2 separate regions of the Homo sapiens genome follow, and region 1 is linked to region 2. A link means that fine-mapping ties the variant in region 2 to the expression of a gene that starts in the linked region. Tissue or cell type: prefrontal cortex. Region 2 holds a variant in brackets; the other region holds the start of a gene. All regions are shown on one strand. Distances are between the middles of the regions.

Region 1 (8,098 bases), 110 kb after region 2:
TGGTCTTCACCCGATGAATAATACATGTCCTCTGGCTGCTTAAGAAGAGCTTGTAGGGGTCAGAGCAGACACAGGAAGGAGCTACTGCATGACTGGGGCAAGAAATGAGGGTGGCCCAACGTTGGTCAATGGGCCAGATGTTCACCAAATTCTTGCTTTTCCTCCTGTGTGTTGTCTGGCACATGGCTGGACTACATTTCCCAGTCACCCTTGCAGGTAGGTGTGGCCGTGTGTCTGAGTTCTGGCCAATGGGACATAGGTAGACAGGCTCTGTACTTCCCATAAGCCCTGCCCTTCTCGGTGAGCTTTAAACCAGGTACTGAACAGGGCAGAACACAAGCTGAAAGGAATCTGAGTTCCTGCTATCCCACAGAGAAGGATCTGCTGATCAGGAACACATGCTGTGAGCTTAGTGTGTTTCAGCCATTATACCTGTCTTCATCTATTTGTGACAATGGTGCCTTAACTGACACCCTTGGGTGCACCCCTCCCCGCCCCCCGCCAGAGCATGCCATCAGCATCACTAGCCTCCCTGGGCACCTGTATTGGGGTAGGGGAACTGGATAACAGGCCAAGATGCCCAGACAGCCCCCATAGTTAGAGAACCAAACACCCTCTGAGCATCTTGGGGTATGAAGGGCCCTGAGTTCTGGGCCTTAGAACCCTAGAAATATCCAATTCTGGAAGCACTAAAGGGGCTCTCACAGAACACAAAATCCCATCTGTGCCATTGAACAACTGGGGAAATTGAGCCTAAGAGAACAGAAAGTACTTGAGGTCCCACAATGAATCTATGGATGAATGAGTGCTTATTCATTCACTCATTTTTTAAAAAAATCCATTCCACAAGTATGTCTTAATCACTGCAGTGTAAGGCACATAGGGACAAAATAGAAGATTCCTGTCCTCATGGAACTCACAAACAAGCAAACAGGAACTGACAGACATGAACAGGTACTACGGAGGGTAAAGCAAGACAAGAGGATAAAGTGCATGGTGGTGCGTTTTACTGGAGTGGTCACAGGGGGCCTCTCTGAGGAGGCAACATCGAGGGGAGACAAGCCCCAAATCTGGGGAAAGACTTTCCAGGCAGAGAGAACAGCAAAAACCGCAGGATGAGTGACAAGAGTCTGAGAAACACGAGGCTAGCTAGAGCAGAGGCAGTGGGGAATAAATAGGGGAAAAAATTCAAGAAGGGGTAAGCAGCTTCATCCTGCAGAGCCGTGTGGCTGGCTGTCAATTCACAATGCACATTGGACCTCTCTGGCCCTGCTCACATGGAAGCTGTCCCCTTTGGACTTTGGAGACTCCAGTACTGGGGGTAGTGGGGAAGGGAATGACCTCCGCTTTCCTAAGGCTTGATCTTCTGGGGTCACCTCATTTCTCCAAGTACCTGCATTCCATGTACAGGCTGGGAGACTTGTGCATCTGGAGAATTCATTCATTCACCATTCATTTATTTATGCACTCATTATGCAAACATTCTGAGCACCGCTGTGTGTCTGGCTCTGGCTTGAAAGAGATGGCAGTTTGGAAGGAGAACAGACACATCCATTGTTACCACCTGATGTGATCAGAGCTGTGATAAAGAGATTGTGGATGCCCAGAGGAGGCACTGGACCTGGCCTGAGAATCAGGGAAGGCTTCCTGGAGCAGAGGCAGTGAAGAAGGAGGTAGGATATAGGATGGTATTCCATGGAGAGGCCCCACAACATGAAAAGCTCAGAGGTGTGAGAGGCCTGTGGTGTTTGTGAAATATTCAAGGGCTGAAATCTCTAAGGCTAAAGAGAGAGGGGTGGGGCAGTGGGAAAGACTGAGATCAGAGATATCAGAACAAGAGGTCCTTGCAGGCCATGGTGATGACCACAATGGGACACCTGGATGCCCATGTCAGCTCAGTCCTTGACTCACTGGGTGGCCTAATCTAGGCACCCCCCAGTCCTGAAGGCTCAGTGGCCTCATCTGTGAAATGGAGCACTTTGGGTGGGCTGTCTCTGACATTCCACCAAGTTCTCCGTGTTGTCTGCCAGCGTTCTTGGGGCCCCACAGAAAGAATGGCCAGGCCAGGGCTGTACCTTCAGCTGCCACACTCTCTGTGTGTTTCCCCTGCCCCTGCCATGCCTTCAAGTGTCCCTCATTGCACTGGGAGAAGGAGCTGGAGGAGATACCAGCATTTACCTTCCATTTCTTTTGGAGCAAGCTCCACATGTAGGAAAAAAGAGGACAGGCTGGGTGGGGTGGCTCACGTCTGTAGTCCCAGCACTTTGGGAGGCTGAGGCAGGTGGATCACTTGAGGTCAGGAGTTCAAGACCAGCCTGGCCAACATGGTGAAACCCCGTCTCTACTAAAAACTACAAAAATTAGCTGGGTGTGGTGGCAGGTGCCTGTAATCCCAGCTACTTGGGAGGCTGAGGCAGGAGAATCACTTGAACCCAGGAGGCAGAGGTTGCAGTGAGCCGAGATGGCGCCATTGCACTCCAGCCTGGGTGACAGAGTGAAAACCCATCTCAAAAAAAAGAAAAAAAAAAGAAAAGAAAAAGGAAGGACAATTGTTCAGCAAGAGAGTGTCAACTGTAAGTTTCTCTAGGCCTCCCTCCAAGGCCTCTTCCATTCTGATGAGTCTGTGCCTGAGAAGTGGCTAAGAGGGGCAGGCACTGGACCAGAATGGCCACTGACCTGCTGTGTGGCCTTGGGCAAGTCACTTGGCCTCTCTGAGCTTCCCTTTGCTCCCCAGAAAAGTGGAATTACTCAGAATACAAACCCAAACCATTGGGTTGTTTTGAAGACTCTAGTATATGTCAAGTTCTTAGCAATGCCCACCATATATGCCTCACAAATGATAGCTAGCATGATTGTTGTTGTTTTTGGTGGTTATAGTGACAGGAGAGGTGAGCATGCTGTCGGGTTGAAGGAGGAATTTTGCTCTGAAAGGGTTAAACTTGAACCAGCTGCTCCCAGTCCTGGTGATAAGGTTGGAGGAAACACAGTCCAGGTCCCCAGCCCTGTCACAAGTGGATTTATGAGGTGCTGGTCACTTTGAGTCGGAGTAGATGATCCCCGCAGACTGCACAGGAAACATTCAGGGTTAGTGGCCAGAAGGGGCTCAGGCCTCTGTTAAAAGAATGAGACAGAGTAGAGAGAAAAAGAGAAAGCCAGGCAGCAGGAGCCCCGCAAACACCCCACCCTGCAGGAGGGGAGAAGGGGAGAGATGGGGTTGAAGGGAGAGACAGAGAAAAGGGAGAACCAGAGGCCCAGCCAGGAGGACACAGACAGTGAGCCTGAGAGAGAGACGGCCGGCAAGAGTAAAGGATGCAGGAACAGCCAGGCAGGGTCGGGGGCAGAGCAGGGGAGCGCGGGCCGCGGAAAGACCGAGAAAGCAGGAGACAAGGAGTTGTCCTTAAGGGCCAGAAGGAGGAACAGACAGAGAAAGGGGACTGGGGGGAGGGAAAGAAAATCACAGGCGCTGAGAGGGCGCGGGGGACCGTACGGGTCTCCGGGTGTCCGCGCATCTGTACCTGCGCGCGCGTGCGTACCTGTGGCTGGCGGTGGGCACGTGCACGTGCTCGGGGGCAGTGCTGGGGGCGGGAAAGACGCAAGACCGCCGGCTGCGGGACAGATCGAACTCGAGGGCCCCGACCCGGGTGACCCCCGCCCCCTCCCCGCGCGCGCTCCCGGGCCCCGAGCTGGTTAACGCGCCGCCCCCGCCGCGCCGGCTCCTCCCCGCCAGGGCAGTGCCCCGGCTCCGCCAACGCCCTCACTAGACCTGGCGGCCGGACCGACCCGCGCCTGGCGGATGCGCCCGGCGCGCCCACAGCAGCCCCCGCGCCCGCCGTGCCGCCGCCGGGACGTGGGGCCCTTGGGCCGTCGGGCCGCCTGGGGAGCGCCAGCCCGGATCCGGCTGCCCAGATGCGGGCGCCACTCTGCCTGCTCCTGCTCGTCGCCCACGCCGTGGACATGCTCGCCCTGAACCGAAGGAAGAAGCAAGGTACAAGGGGTGGCTGGGCAGGGCGGCCGGGCAGGCGCTGCGGGGCAGACCGGGGGCCGGAGGACCGGGGGCGGCGGCTCTGGGGGCATCTGCCTGGTGCCTGGCGCCCTGGGTCCTTCGCTCCTCCAGACGAGTCTCAACCTCACTTAAGATGGGGAGATTGAGGCTCCAGGGCACCCAGTGAGCGAGCCATTGAGTAGGGTGGGCCAAGGAGACTCACCCAGAAGGGAGAGGGTAGCAGGGCTCTCTGTAGTAGCCGCATGGTCAGCAGAAAGGAGGATGGCTTCGTGCAGAGACAGAAGACTCAAGAGCCAGCCTGCGGGGCACAGGGACTAGGAGACAGACTCAGTGGCGTAGAAGCCATTCCAAGCATCCATGCTCGGCCAGGAAGTGACATAGAGAGCCTTGGGCTGGGCGTCCAGAGGCCCCAGTCCCAGCCTCATCACTCACCCTGACTCCTGGTGTCACCTCCCAGAGGGCAGTGATCCTCCATGGCCCCCCTATGTTGAGTTCAGCCAGACCTGAGACCTGAGTTCAGGTTCACTTATTCTAATAGGGGATGACCTAGAAGAAGTCCAGCCCCTCAGAGAGCCTCAGCTTTTCCATCTTCACCTCTCAGGCCACTAGGAAGATGAGCCAAGGTTCAGATTATAAATGTACCAGGGGCCGCATGCGCTCTCACCTGGGAGTCCTATGCCACAGCCTCGCTGTGAGAGTCAGAACATCCTCAGAAGGTGGGTTGGAGGCTGTCCCTGCAGAGCAGGAGTTGGTAGAGCCTGTGCCTCAGAGAAGGGTAAGCGGGTGAGCAAGTGAGCAAATCGCCTGCCTGAGCTGGGCAGCCCTTTGGCCTCCAGGTGCCACTCTTAAGATCAGCAGCCGAATGCCAGCCACTATGCCACGGGTTTTTCATGTCCTAGCTCATCAAATCCCAACTATATGCTCATGACATAGGGGTCGTCCAGTTTTAATAAAGCCTGGGATTCCAAGGCTCAGACTGGTTTAAATAACTGCTGAATTGTCCAGCTGGTGTCTTCTCTCTTTCCAGCCCTGGCATCGGGTCTGAGCAAGGATAAAGGGGAAGGAAAATGAGAGAGGATGGGTTGCCCTCTGGGGCCTTCCATTTGTGTGAAAGCCCTACAGCGACACAGTCACTCCTGGAACGGAGCAGGAAGCAGACAGAGGCTGTGGGAGAATTGGGAGGTGGGATTGGATGGGGTTGGGGAGACTGTGGCCCAAGAGGCTCCAGTTCTTGCTGTGACAGTGGGACAAGGGACTAGAGAGGCGTGTGGTTTTCAGCTGAGCTGGGGTGAGTTTGGGACTCTATGGGGACACTCCTTTGTGAATGGCCTTTGTTTAGTAGTTAGGGGCATGGGCTCTGGAGCCAGGTCAACTGAGTTCAAATCCCAGCTTCCCCAGTTACCAACTGAGTGACTTTGGATAAGTCACTTTGCCTGTCCAATCCTCACTTTACCCATCTGAGGGTCCTTTAGAAGATCTCTGAGATCTTTCTCCATTCTAAACAATACCAAAAAATCAAACAAACCCCCTTTCCCTTCATCAACCCATCTTTTACTTAAGTATCCTGCTCATAAGGAGGATTGTGGGCAAGATGAGTAGCTAAGGACACAGGCTCCTAATGGGTGCTCGTAAGTATTAATCATTCTCATTTCCTGTCCACTGTGTCTTTGGCTACTCACAGTGGCTTAGTGGAGGGAGGGGAGAGATGCTTGTTTTCTGGATGAGGGAACTGAGGTTCAGAGAAGGAAACTGACTTGTCCAAGGTCGCACAGCAGGTGAGTAGCAAAGCAGGCTCGAATCCCAATCTGCCTGACATAATGCTGAGAAGATATCTTCTGAGGTGTGCTGGTCTTCCCTTCTCAGAGCCTCAGTTTCCTCATCTAAAGAGGAGCTGGTTTAGGCCAGGTGTGGTGGCTCACGCCTGTAATACCAGCACTTTGGGAGGCCAAGGCAGGCGGATCATTTGAGATCAGGAGTTTGAGACCAGCCTGGCTAACATGATGAAACCCTGTCTTTACTAAAAATACAATGATTAGCTGGGTGTGGTGGCGGGCGCCTGTAATTCCAGCTACTTGGGAGGCTGAGGCAGGAGAGTCGCTTGAACCCAGGAGGCAGAGGTTGCAGTGAGCCGAGATCATGCCACTGCACTCCAGCCTGGGTGTCAGAGTGAGACTCTGTCTCAACAACAACAACAACAACAAAAAGGAGCTGGTTTAGAAGACTTTAAGATGCTTCTCAGCTCAAAAAAGACAAAAAAATTAAAGAAAAATGAAAAATTCCTATCCTGCCCCTTTTGCCCCCCGCCCCATCTACAGCTCACCACCACCTCCCCAGGAGCTCAGTGAGGAGGTAGGGATATGGCCGCAATTTGGTGAGGGGCTCTCAGCATCCCTCCTCCAGTACCTGATCTCTTGCCTCTGGGACACACACCTGCCTAGCATCTTCAGAAGAGGCTTAGGGCTCCATTTATTTGTTGGGGTACAATGGAGATAGCCTTGGATTTCAGTCACACCCCTGACCCAGTTGTATCATGTGACCTTGGGTGAGTGGATTTTCTCTGTCCCCCGCCCATAGCCTCAGTTTCCCACTGGCACTGCAGTGGGGACCAGAGCTAGATAAACCCTTCCTGTAGCATATTTTGCAAGGCAGCCACAGGAGTTCTGGTCAAATAGATTGGGAAATGCTGGGTTTAGCAGATTTCTTGGCTGTGAGACTTATCAGAGCATGCTGAAGAGGTGGAGACAGACAGTGTAACCCAGGTGCGATGGCTCAAGCCTATAATCCTGGCACTTTGGGAGGCCAAGATGGGAGGATAGCTTGAGCTCAGGAGTTCGAGACCAGCCTGGGCAACATGGCAAAACTCTACAAAAAATACATTTTTTGTCTCTATAAAAAAATACAAAAAATAGCCAGGCATGTTGGTGGTGGTGCACACCTGTAGTCCCAGCTACTTAGGAAGCCGAAGTGGGAGGATCGCTTCAGCCCAGGAAAGACATCAAGGCTGCAGTGAGCCGTGATTGTGCCACTGCACCCCAGCCTGGGCGACAGAGCAGACCCTGTCTCAAAAAAAAAAAAAAAAAAAGAGAGCGAGAGAGAGTGACCTTTCCCAAACATATTACACATCAGAGACCATTTCTCATAAGGCATCTGCTTGGAAAATTCTGTACACAATCCCTCAGGGTCCTACCAGCTTTGACCTTATCTAACTTTGGCAGGAGAATGTGTCCTGAAAACACCTGGGTATTGGCAGTGCTTCATTCATTCACTTGTTCATTTCACAGGGCAGCCTCTGTGCCAGGCTCTGTGTTGGGGACCTTGGAGATACCCAGGTGAGCAGCCCTGGGCCTGTCCTTGGGGAGCTGCCAACATAGAGGGATGACCCTTTCCCACCTTTCTCCAGCCTCCCCCATGCCTGAGTCTTTGGCCTTAGCGTTTGGCCAGGTCTGCACAATCCCGAGGAATGAGGTGCTGGGCTGGCATCTGCCCTCTCTGAGCCTGCTTGAGGCCTGGTTCCCACAGGCCCATCCTTCCTCAGGCTCCGGCGTCACTGCGTCTTAATGAAGCCCAATTTTTCTGTTTCTAAGAAAGAATGAAGTAAAAGACTTGAGAAAGATTCTTGGATCTCAAGTGTCTCTTACAAAACAGCATGTTGATTAATGAAGTGTAAATGAATCAGAACCAGATGGGGACATTTTTTTGAAACATGCTGGGGTGTCCTGGCAATGGGACAGTAGGGCAGAGTGAGGGGGCCCTGGTTCGCATCCCTAGATCTGGAGGTCCATTTGGGCAAGGAGGAGATGCCAGCCTGTGACTGACTTTCCCTGACATCCAAGGCCTTCTGGGGAGGGACCCCCACATTCACATGGAGCTTCTGGATCTTTCTAGACCTGAGCAAGCAAGGGGCAAAGTGAAGAGCCCTGGGATCAAACCTTGAGCCCTCTCCTGCCCTAGATATGTGACATTAAGCAGGCCACATGCCTTCTCCCGTCCGTGCTTCCCCATCTGTGAAATGGGAAAACTTACACCTACCTCTCTGAGCAATTGGGAAGATTTACTGCAGTCCAAGAGGGAAGGGGGCCAAAGGCACACAGTAGG
Region 2 (8,103 bases):
GAAGGGTATCAGACACGCCCTCTAGAACAAGTTCCTCAGCAGAGGTGGATGGGGTTCTGACAGTGTGGCAGAGTCTAAGTAGCTAGCTAGGAGTAGGTAAGGGGAGTGAGGTACATGAGGAGGGACAGAGTGCAAAGCAGAGCTGTTCCATCTGAAGGACAAGACAAAGGGCAGGGGGAGCTGAGGGCCAATGGAGGAGATCCCAGGTCAAAATCAAATCTTACTCCTCTTCTCAGCCCCACTGTCCCCTGCACCATCCCACATACCAGTTTCTTTGAAGAATCTAGGAAAAGTTGAAATAAAATGACTGGGGCAAGTGAAGAGCTGCTTAAGATTAAAAAGCTGGAGTAAGACAAGTGGGGAGACAAGATTTCTGTTAGGGGAACTATGCATTGAAAGAGGGGCCTGACGCTGAAATGGGGGTGCTGTCTCTACCTGGTCCCAAGGTCTGAAATGCTGGAAGACATTTGGAAGGTATGTGGAATGAAGAGCAGCACAAAGAGAAAGGTCAGGGACAGATGTGTTTGGGAAGGTGAAATGATTCCTGCTTCCAGGTATGTGTGTGTGAAAGGCTAGCTGTTCTTTTCCATCCTCATATCTAGTCTTAGAGCCCATTTGAGAGATGAAGTATGTGTGAGTTTGGAGGTGGGAATGGGGATCCTGAGTGTGTACCTGGGGTCCCAGTGAGATAATTGAGGTCTGGGGAAAAAAAGAGCCAGAAATCCCTGACGGTTCTTGTGTTCTGATTCCTGCTGGAGGGGGTAAAGTGTGAGAGGGGTATGGTGGTCTTGGTCTTTAGTTCTAAGAGACAGAGAGGAATAGGGACAGCAGTGAGGGGTGGGGGAAAGGGGATACTTGTCTAAGTGCTCAGAATGTACAAAGCAAGTTTGAAGAGAGGTCCCTAAAGCTATGTCAGGAGGGGAGAATTAAGACTCTATTTGAGAAGCTAAAAAAAATGATTAGAGGAGTTGAGAACTGAAGCAGTCAAAAAGGAGAGGAAGGGTGAAATCTCATGGCAAGATGCAATAGGTGGGGTGGTCTGTTTCCCATGGCTAGTCTTGGTTCTGAGAGTGAGAGAACAGTGACAGTGAGGGGCAGGCATGGAGGCAGGCCCACTTCTCCCAGGAAGCAGATGTCTAGGATGATGTGGATGTTGGGGATGAGGGTCACAGGGAAGAGACAGGAAAGAAAGAAGAATGCCAGAGCAAAGAATTAGTGAGGTGGGTTGGGTCCAGCAGTCCTAGAACTCTGTGGGGATGACAACGACGTCCCTAGCTGTAAGAGGTGGAGCCTGGGGATGGGAGAAGAGGGGCTGGCCCTATGGGGACAACTATGAGGAGAAAATCTTATATGACCCTCACACCCAGGGTGTATGTGTGTACGACTCTGGGGGTGATTGCTTCCTAGAGCTTGAGTTGGGGATGGCAGTAGCGAGTGGACTATGCTGGGCCCTTCAGTAAAGGGTGAAAGGCGTGTGAACTCTCTGGGCCCATGCTAACGGGTGAAAAAAGGGCCCTGGCCTGGGGCTGAGTAGGTCAAAGCTCACTCCTGTACCTGTGCTTGGATCCAGATGTTTGGTGGAGGCTCTACTGTGGTATGAGGGCGGAACTGAGTCAGTCCCCTCACCCCGAGGCTGGGTGGTAAGGAGTTCAGACGGGATCAGGTGGGTGAGAAGTGCTCTGGGGAGCTAAACTCCTGTCTAGATTCTTTGCCATTCTATGGAATGCTAGATCCACACAGTCCTGGCCTGAGAGGCTGCCAGGCTGTGTTGAAGCGAGTGTCCGCCCTTGAGTTTACAAATCATGTTGTGCCAGCTGTGCCGTGAGGGACTCTGGGCTGGGATGGGGCAGGTGAGCAACCTCCGACCCGCAGGTTTTACCAACGCTGCCATCTGCCCCAGACCCTGCACTGGGAGAAGCGGGGAAATCGGGCGCTCTGGACCAGGCCTCCGGTACTCTGAGTTTGGGCAGAAGACAGTTCCCTCCTCCACCCTGGCCGGCTCCGTGGCGTACCTGGTCACCGACACCCAAGCCGAAGTAACCGTGTGTCACCACTTCCCAATGCAAGAAGCAGACGAGCGCGTCCTGCCTGCAGGTGATGGCCGGCGCTGCCGATGCGAACAGTACCTCCAGGCCCGCCATGAGCGCCCGCGACTTCGGCGTCTGGAGGAAAGAAGGGGGCGGGGGTAGTGCAGTGAGCCGGCTCCGCGGCCGGGGTAGCTATAACTCTGCTTCCCTCTTGCGCTGGTTCTTGCCGAGTCCACACCTGAGACCAAAATGGAGACGCCCGGGGACGGGGCGGGGCGGGGAAGCCGGAAGTAGTCCCAACAGCGGGCGCAACTGCGTGAGGCGCGCCGGGTTGGCAACGCGAGCGCAGCACTGAAAGGTTCCGCCAGGGAGTGCGAGCGGGGCGTGGCCCCTCAAAGCCGGAAGCCGGGTCTTGGCGGCAGTCGACAGGATCGCCTGACGCGGGCACAGCGTCCTCCAAGAGGCCACCTTGCTGAGAGGCAGACTTCCCATCCACAAAATGGGGTATGCTAGGCCGGGGAAGGGGCTGGGAAATGTGGCTAAAATACATTCTTAATAATCGTTAACACGTTCGCCGTGCTTGCTACCGTCCACATTATTCTAAACGCTTTACTTGTATTCATTTATTTAATCTTCACAACCCAACTCTATGCAGTTGATATTAACGATTAATGTGCCTCATTGCACAGATGAGGAAACTGAGGCGCAGAGGGATAATTTGACCAAGATGACAACAGCCAGCCGGTGAACGGCTGAAATGGTTATGGGAACCTGGCAGTCTGGCTTCTAAGATAACATTTATTAAGTGTTTATTGTGTGCTACATCGTGCGCTAAAACCTTTACATCACCCTCTCAACAACTCTATGAAGTATGGACCGTTATTATCCCCATTTTGCAGATGACAAAACGGCTCAGAGTTGAAACCACTTCTCCAAGGAGACACAACTGCTGCCCGCAGAGCTGAAGCTCCTGACCCACTATCAAATTTCAATCATTTATTTGCCTACCCCCTTTATGATTTTTACCACCCGTTACTTCAACAAGTTTCATGAAATCCACTTATTGTTTTTACCCAAATAAATTTAGTTTCCCCATCCCAGTCACTAACCTGGTTCAAGCTCCTGTCATCTTTCACTTGGATGCCTGGCATCAGCCTCAGAACTGCCCCATTCCATTCCTGTCTCTCTCTAGTCTGTACTGCACTCCGCAACCAGAGAGATTCTGTTAGAAAACAAGTCAGATCGGCCAGGTGTGGCGGCTCATGCCTGTAATCCCAGCACTTTGTGAGGCCGAGGCAGGCGGATCACTTGAGGTCAGGAGTTTGAGACCAGCCTGGCCAACATGGTGAAACCCTGTCTCTACTAAAAATACAAAAATTAGCTGGGTGTGGTGGCGCACGCCTTTAGTCCCAGGTACTCGGGAGGCTGAGGCATGAGAATCAATCGAACCCGGGAGGTGGAGGTGGAGGTTGCAGTGAGCCAAGATCGCACCATTGCACTTCAGCCTGGGCAACAGAGCGATCTTCTGTCTCAAAAAAGAAAAAAAAAAAAAAAGAAAAGTCAGATCACATCCGTTGGCTCAAAATCGTCACACTCAATGGAAAAGTAAAGTCCTCCCCATGGTCTGCAGGAATCTGCATGTGGTCTGCCATCTCCTGCCCCAGCCCTGCCAGCCCTGTACCTCTCTGATTCAGTCTCCTTCAACTGTCCTCTCATCCCCTTTATACGTGCAATAACCTTGGCTCCCCCTCTTCTCTCACATCTACATCTGGTCCAACAGCAAAGCTAGTTGACTCCACTCTCAAAATATATTATGAATCTGACCACTTCCCATCACCTTCACTGCTTCCACTCTGGTCTGATCCTCCAGCATCTCACACTTAGACTATTGCAGTAGCTTCCCAGCCAGTTTCCCTGTTTCATGTGTTCTGTTTGGGCCTTTGCGTTCCTCTTCCTGGAATGCTCTTTTCCCAGATATCTGCATGTCTTGCTTCTTCATTTCAAGTGGCTTCATCCCTCACTCCTACCATCCTCAACAGAGGGCTTCCCAGACCATTCCATCCAAAATAACCTTCTCCCGTCTTTAATCCCTCTCTGGCTTTTTTTTTTTCCTGCAAAGCATTAATCATAACCTGAAACTATGTTAGGTGTTTATTTCTTTGCTTATTTAATGACTGTCTTTCCACTAGACTGTGACAAAGGAACAGGGAGCATGTCTACCTTGTGCACATATGTACCTGAGTGCCTTCTGGGATCAATCTATACTTATTGAAAGACAGAATGAATACTGAATGAAGGAATGAATTCTTGGCCTAGCCCCAACCCAGTCAGGGCACTCTTACCTCTTTATAGTCCATCACTCCCTTTGTCAGCTGGCCCTGTGCCTCTCCAAATTTTGTGTTCCTAAAGTTTCCTTGAGACAACCAGATTCTTGAACCCCTTCTGCAGAGATTCTGGATGAGAAGGTCTGAGGAAGAGTGCATGTATGTTGACTACATTCTGGATGACACTAAAGCTAGTGGCTGTGGAACTCCTCTCTGAGATGTACTGCCTGTGGCATAAAGCTATTTGCCCTTTCTACTGAGAAGTTCTGCACTTTCAGTCTTCCCTGCTTTTGCTTGCTCTGTCCCTTCTGTTTGTAATGCCCTTATCCAATTATGGAAAATTTCTACAGATTCATTCCATCAATAAACTTTCATAGGCTGGGCTGCCATGAACCATAGTGCAGGGTGTCCACTTAAGGTGCCTACTTAGTGGCAGCCCATTCCTAAGTGCCTACTGTGGGCCAGACACAGATGAACAGGTTCCTGTCCCTATAGAGCTCACTGTCTAGTGTTTAAAAAAAAAAAAAAGTACTGGCCAGGCATGGTGGCTCACACCTGTAATCCCAGCACTTTGGG[A/G]GGCTGAGGCAGGTGGATCACGAGGTCAGGAGTTCAAGACCAGCCTGGCCAACATGGTGAAACCCTGTCTCTACTAAAAATACAAAAATTAGCCGGGCGTGGTGGCAGGCACCTGTAATCCCAGCTATTCGGGAGGCTGAGGCAGGAGAATCGCTTGAACCCGGGAGGTAGAGGTTGCAGTGAGCCGAGATCAAGCCACTGCACTCTAGCCTGGGTGATAAAGAGAGACTGTCTCAAAAAAAAAAAAAAAGTGGATTAAGGATCAAAAGGTGTTCCAGTAAAAGGAAACAGTATGTGCAAAGGCATGGTGGAATGCAGCTAGCTCTGTGGGATTACAAGGTCAATGTTGCCTCCTGAGTGAGGTTTCCCTCGTCTCTTTGCCCATGATTAATTGCACTTTCCTCAGTGTGCTTGGCATCAGTGGGCTTTCAAGGGGTGGGCATGGGACAGTGAGAGCTATCAGCCTTAGTCAGGTGGAGAATTTTATCAATGAAGTTGATTCAAATTGCTGGTACATGATGACAGTAAAAAGTGGACTGGCCTTTGGTCTGTTTTGTTACTGCCTTTACGTTTTCTACAGCAAATGTACCTACTCCTTGTCTGCACCAGGGCAGACAGCTCCGTCACCCCCACCCCTTGGTTCAACACTGGTTTGCATACAGTTGGTTGTAGCTGGCATCTTACAGGGCAGACAGCTCCGTCACCCCCACCCCTTGGTTCAACACTGGTTTGCATACAGTTGGTTGTAGCTGGCATCTTACAGGGCAGACAGCTCCGTCACCCCCACCCCGTGGTTCAACACTGCTTTGCATACAGTTGGTTGTAGCTGGCATCTTACAGGGCAGACAGCTCCGTCACCCCCACCCCTTGGTTCAACACTGGTTTGCATACAGTTGGTTGTAGCTGGCATCTTACAGGGCAGACAGCTCCATCACCCCCACCCCTTGGTTCAACACTGGTTTGCATACAGTTGGTTGTAGCTGGCATCTTACAGGGCAGACAGCTCCGTCACCCCCACCCCTTGGTTCAACACTGGTTTGCATACAGTTGGTTGTAGCTGGCATCTTACAGGGCAGACAGCTCCGTCACCCCCACCCCTTGGTTCAACACTGGTTTGCATACAGTTGGTTGTAGCTGGCATCTTACAGGGCAGACAGCTCCGTCACCCCCACCCCTTGGTTCAACACTGCTTTGCATACAGTTGGTTGTAGCTGGCATCTTACAGGGCAGACAGGTCCGTCACCCCCACCCCTTGACACTGGTTTGCATACAGTTGGTTGTAGCTGGCATCTTACAGGGCAGACAGCTCCGTCACCCCCACCCCTTGGTTCAACACTGGTTTGCATACAGTTGGTTGTAGCTGGCATCTTACAGGGCAGACAGCTCCGTCACCCCCACCCCTTGGTTCAACACTGGTTTGCATACAGTTGGTTGTAGCTGGCATCTTACAGGGCAGACAGCTCCGTCACCCCCACCCCTTGGTTCAACACTGCTTTGCATACAGTTGGTTGTAGCTGGCATCTTACAGAACACTGGTTCCCTCTTCTACACCATCATCCCTGTCTTAACATGTATTCTCTCAGAAGCCCGTGGTGAGACAGGGATTTGAGTGGTTTATTTGGGAGCTGATTCCAGGAAATAGCGGTGGGGGCAGTGGAGTAGGGAAGTGAGACAGGAAGGAAAGGGAGCCAGCAGAGGGAGTGTGATGAAGCCAGTTACCTCTACGGGCAACTGGACCGCACTCCTACCCGGGAACTCTGGGAGGCAGTGTGGGGCATGTCTCAGAGCTATTGCATTTGAGGGCATCTGCCACAGGCTGAGAGCTGCTTCTGGGGTCCTGGAAGGCCCTCAGGCACAGAGTTGCATAATTTAGAGAAAGCAGTCTTTGCGTCTAGAGGTGACTGCTGAAGGGTGATGAGGGTGTTGTAGTGCGATCTGCTCTGTCCTCCCACACCCCTGACCGGGGGTAAGCCATGCCTTAGAAAGTCCGTAACCCAGGCCGGGCGCGGTGGCTCACGCCTGTAATCCCAGCACTTTGGGAGGCTGAGGCGGGCGGATCACGAGGTCAGGACATCGAGACCATCCTGGCTAACACAGTGAAACCCCGTCTCTACTAAAAATACAAAAAATTAGCCGGGCGTGGTGGCGGGCACCTGTAGTTCCAGCTACTCGGAGGCTGAGGCAGGAGAATGGCGTGAACCCGAGAGGCAGAGCTTGCAGTAAGCTGAGATCGCGCCACTGCACTCCAACCTGGGCGACAGAGCGAGACGCCGTCTCAAAAAAACCAAAAAACAAAAAAAAAGAAGAAGAAGAAAGTATGTAACCCAGCAGCCAGCATGGAATAGGCACTGGCATCAGTGTATTGAAAGAATGAGGTGAGCTCTATCTCTTGCACTAGGCTGTGAATCCCCTGAAGGCCAGGACTATGTTCCACCTGTCCTGAACCCCAGGGTCCTCCAGGGATGGGAACAAATGGGAGGAACTCCTGGGGCTGGTGTGTGTGTGTGTGTGTGTGTGTGTGTGTGTGTGTGTGTGTGTGTGTTGCCCCTGATCCATCCAGCACTTTCTGTGGACTTACCTACATCAGCAAGAGTCCCATTCTGCCCTATGAGGGCTGTGGGTGGCTGAGAAGGGAAGCAGGTGGCAGGTGCCTCCCTGTCTGGGCCCCCACTACCAAGAGCCTATGCCAGAGGTGAGGGCCCAGGATGATGGAAAGAACTTGGCTGGTGGCTGCAGCCACCAGTTCCTGGTTGCCAAGTGACAGCAATGTGGGTATTCCAAGCTCCCTGCCTCCCTGGAAACCATGAAGAACTGAACCAAGGGGCAGCGCCTAGATGGGCACTGAGGCGAAATCGTTCACTACTGTAATTCTTCTTTGGCCTAGCATCAGCCCAACCGTATCACCTCCTCCAGGAAGCCCTCTATGATTAATATTGTTCTTTGTTTCTACCAAGTAGCTGATATCCAAGACTTCCCAACTTCCCATTCCCCTTGTCCGTGGGGTACCTAGCATATTTGACACCCATAGCAGATATCTCTTTTTTTTAAAAAAATGATAATTTTTAGGCTGGGCATAGTGGCTCATGCCTGTAATCCCAGCACCTTGGGAGGCGGGCGGATCACAAGGTCAGGAGATCGAGACCATCCTAGCTAACACGGTGAAACCCTGTCTCTAC

Alleles and levels. Positions count from the first base shown, and alleles are read on the strand shown. Sizes are in standard deviations (SD) of each study's normalised expression.
In carriers of allele G in region 2, the expression in prefrontal cortex of the gene that starts at base 3,760 in region 1 tends to be higher than with A alone (moderate effect, 0.61 SD a copy in GTEx).

The links. PIP is the estimated chance that this variant, and not a neighbour inherited with it, causes the effect.
Region 1: RSPO4 starts here. The variant in region 2 is fine-mapped to the expression of RSPO4 in prefrontal cortex (GTEx, PIP above 0.99).

Annotation. Positions count from the first base shown.
Region 1 is chr20:997,973-1,006,070 of GRCh38, reverse strand. It overlaps RSPO4 (R-spondin 4), which reads left to right and starts at 3,760. Exons shown (of 5, transcript NM_001029871.4): 1 at 3,760-3,985. The coding sequence starts at 3,907. RefSeq lists a silencer at 156-336 and an enhancer at 131-425.
Region 2 is chr20:1,112,812-1,120,914 of GRCh38, reverse strand. It overlaps PSMF1 (proteasome inhibitor subunit 1), which reads right to left and starts at 2,313. Exons shown (of 7, transcript NM_006814.5): 1 at 2,013-2,313. The coding sequence starts at 2,141. It overlaps LOC105372493 (a long non-coding RNA gene), which reads left to right and starts at 2,467. Exons shown (of 2, transcript NR_136535.1): 1 at 2,467-2,531; 2 at 2,927-3,063. RefSeq lists enhancers at 2,041-2,170, 2,211-2,400, 2,411-2,460, 2,471-2,520, 1,920-2,562. The variant A/G (reference allele first, on the strand shown) is at 4,928.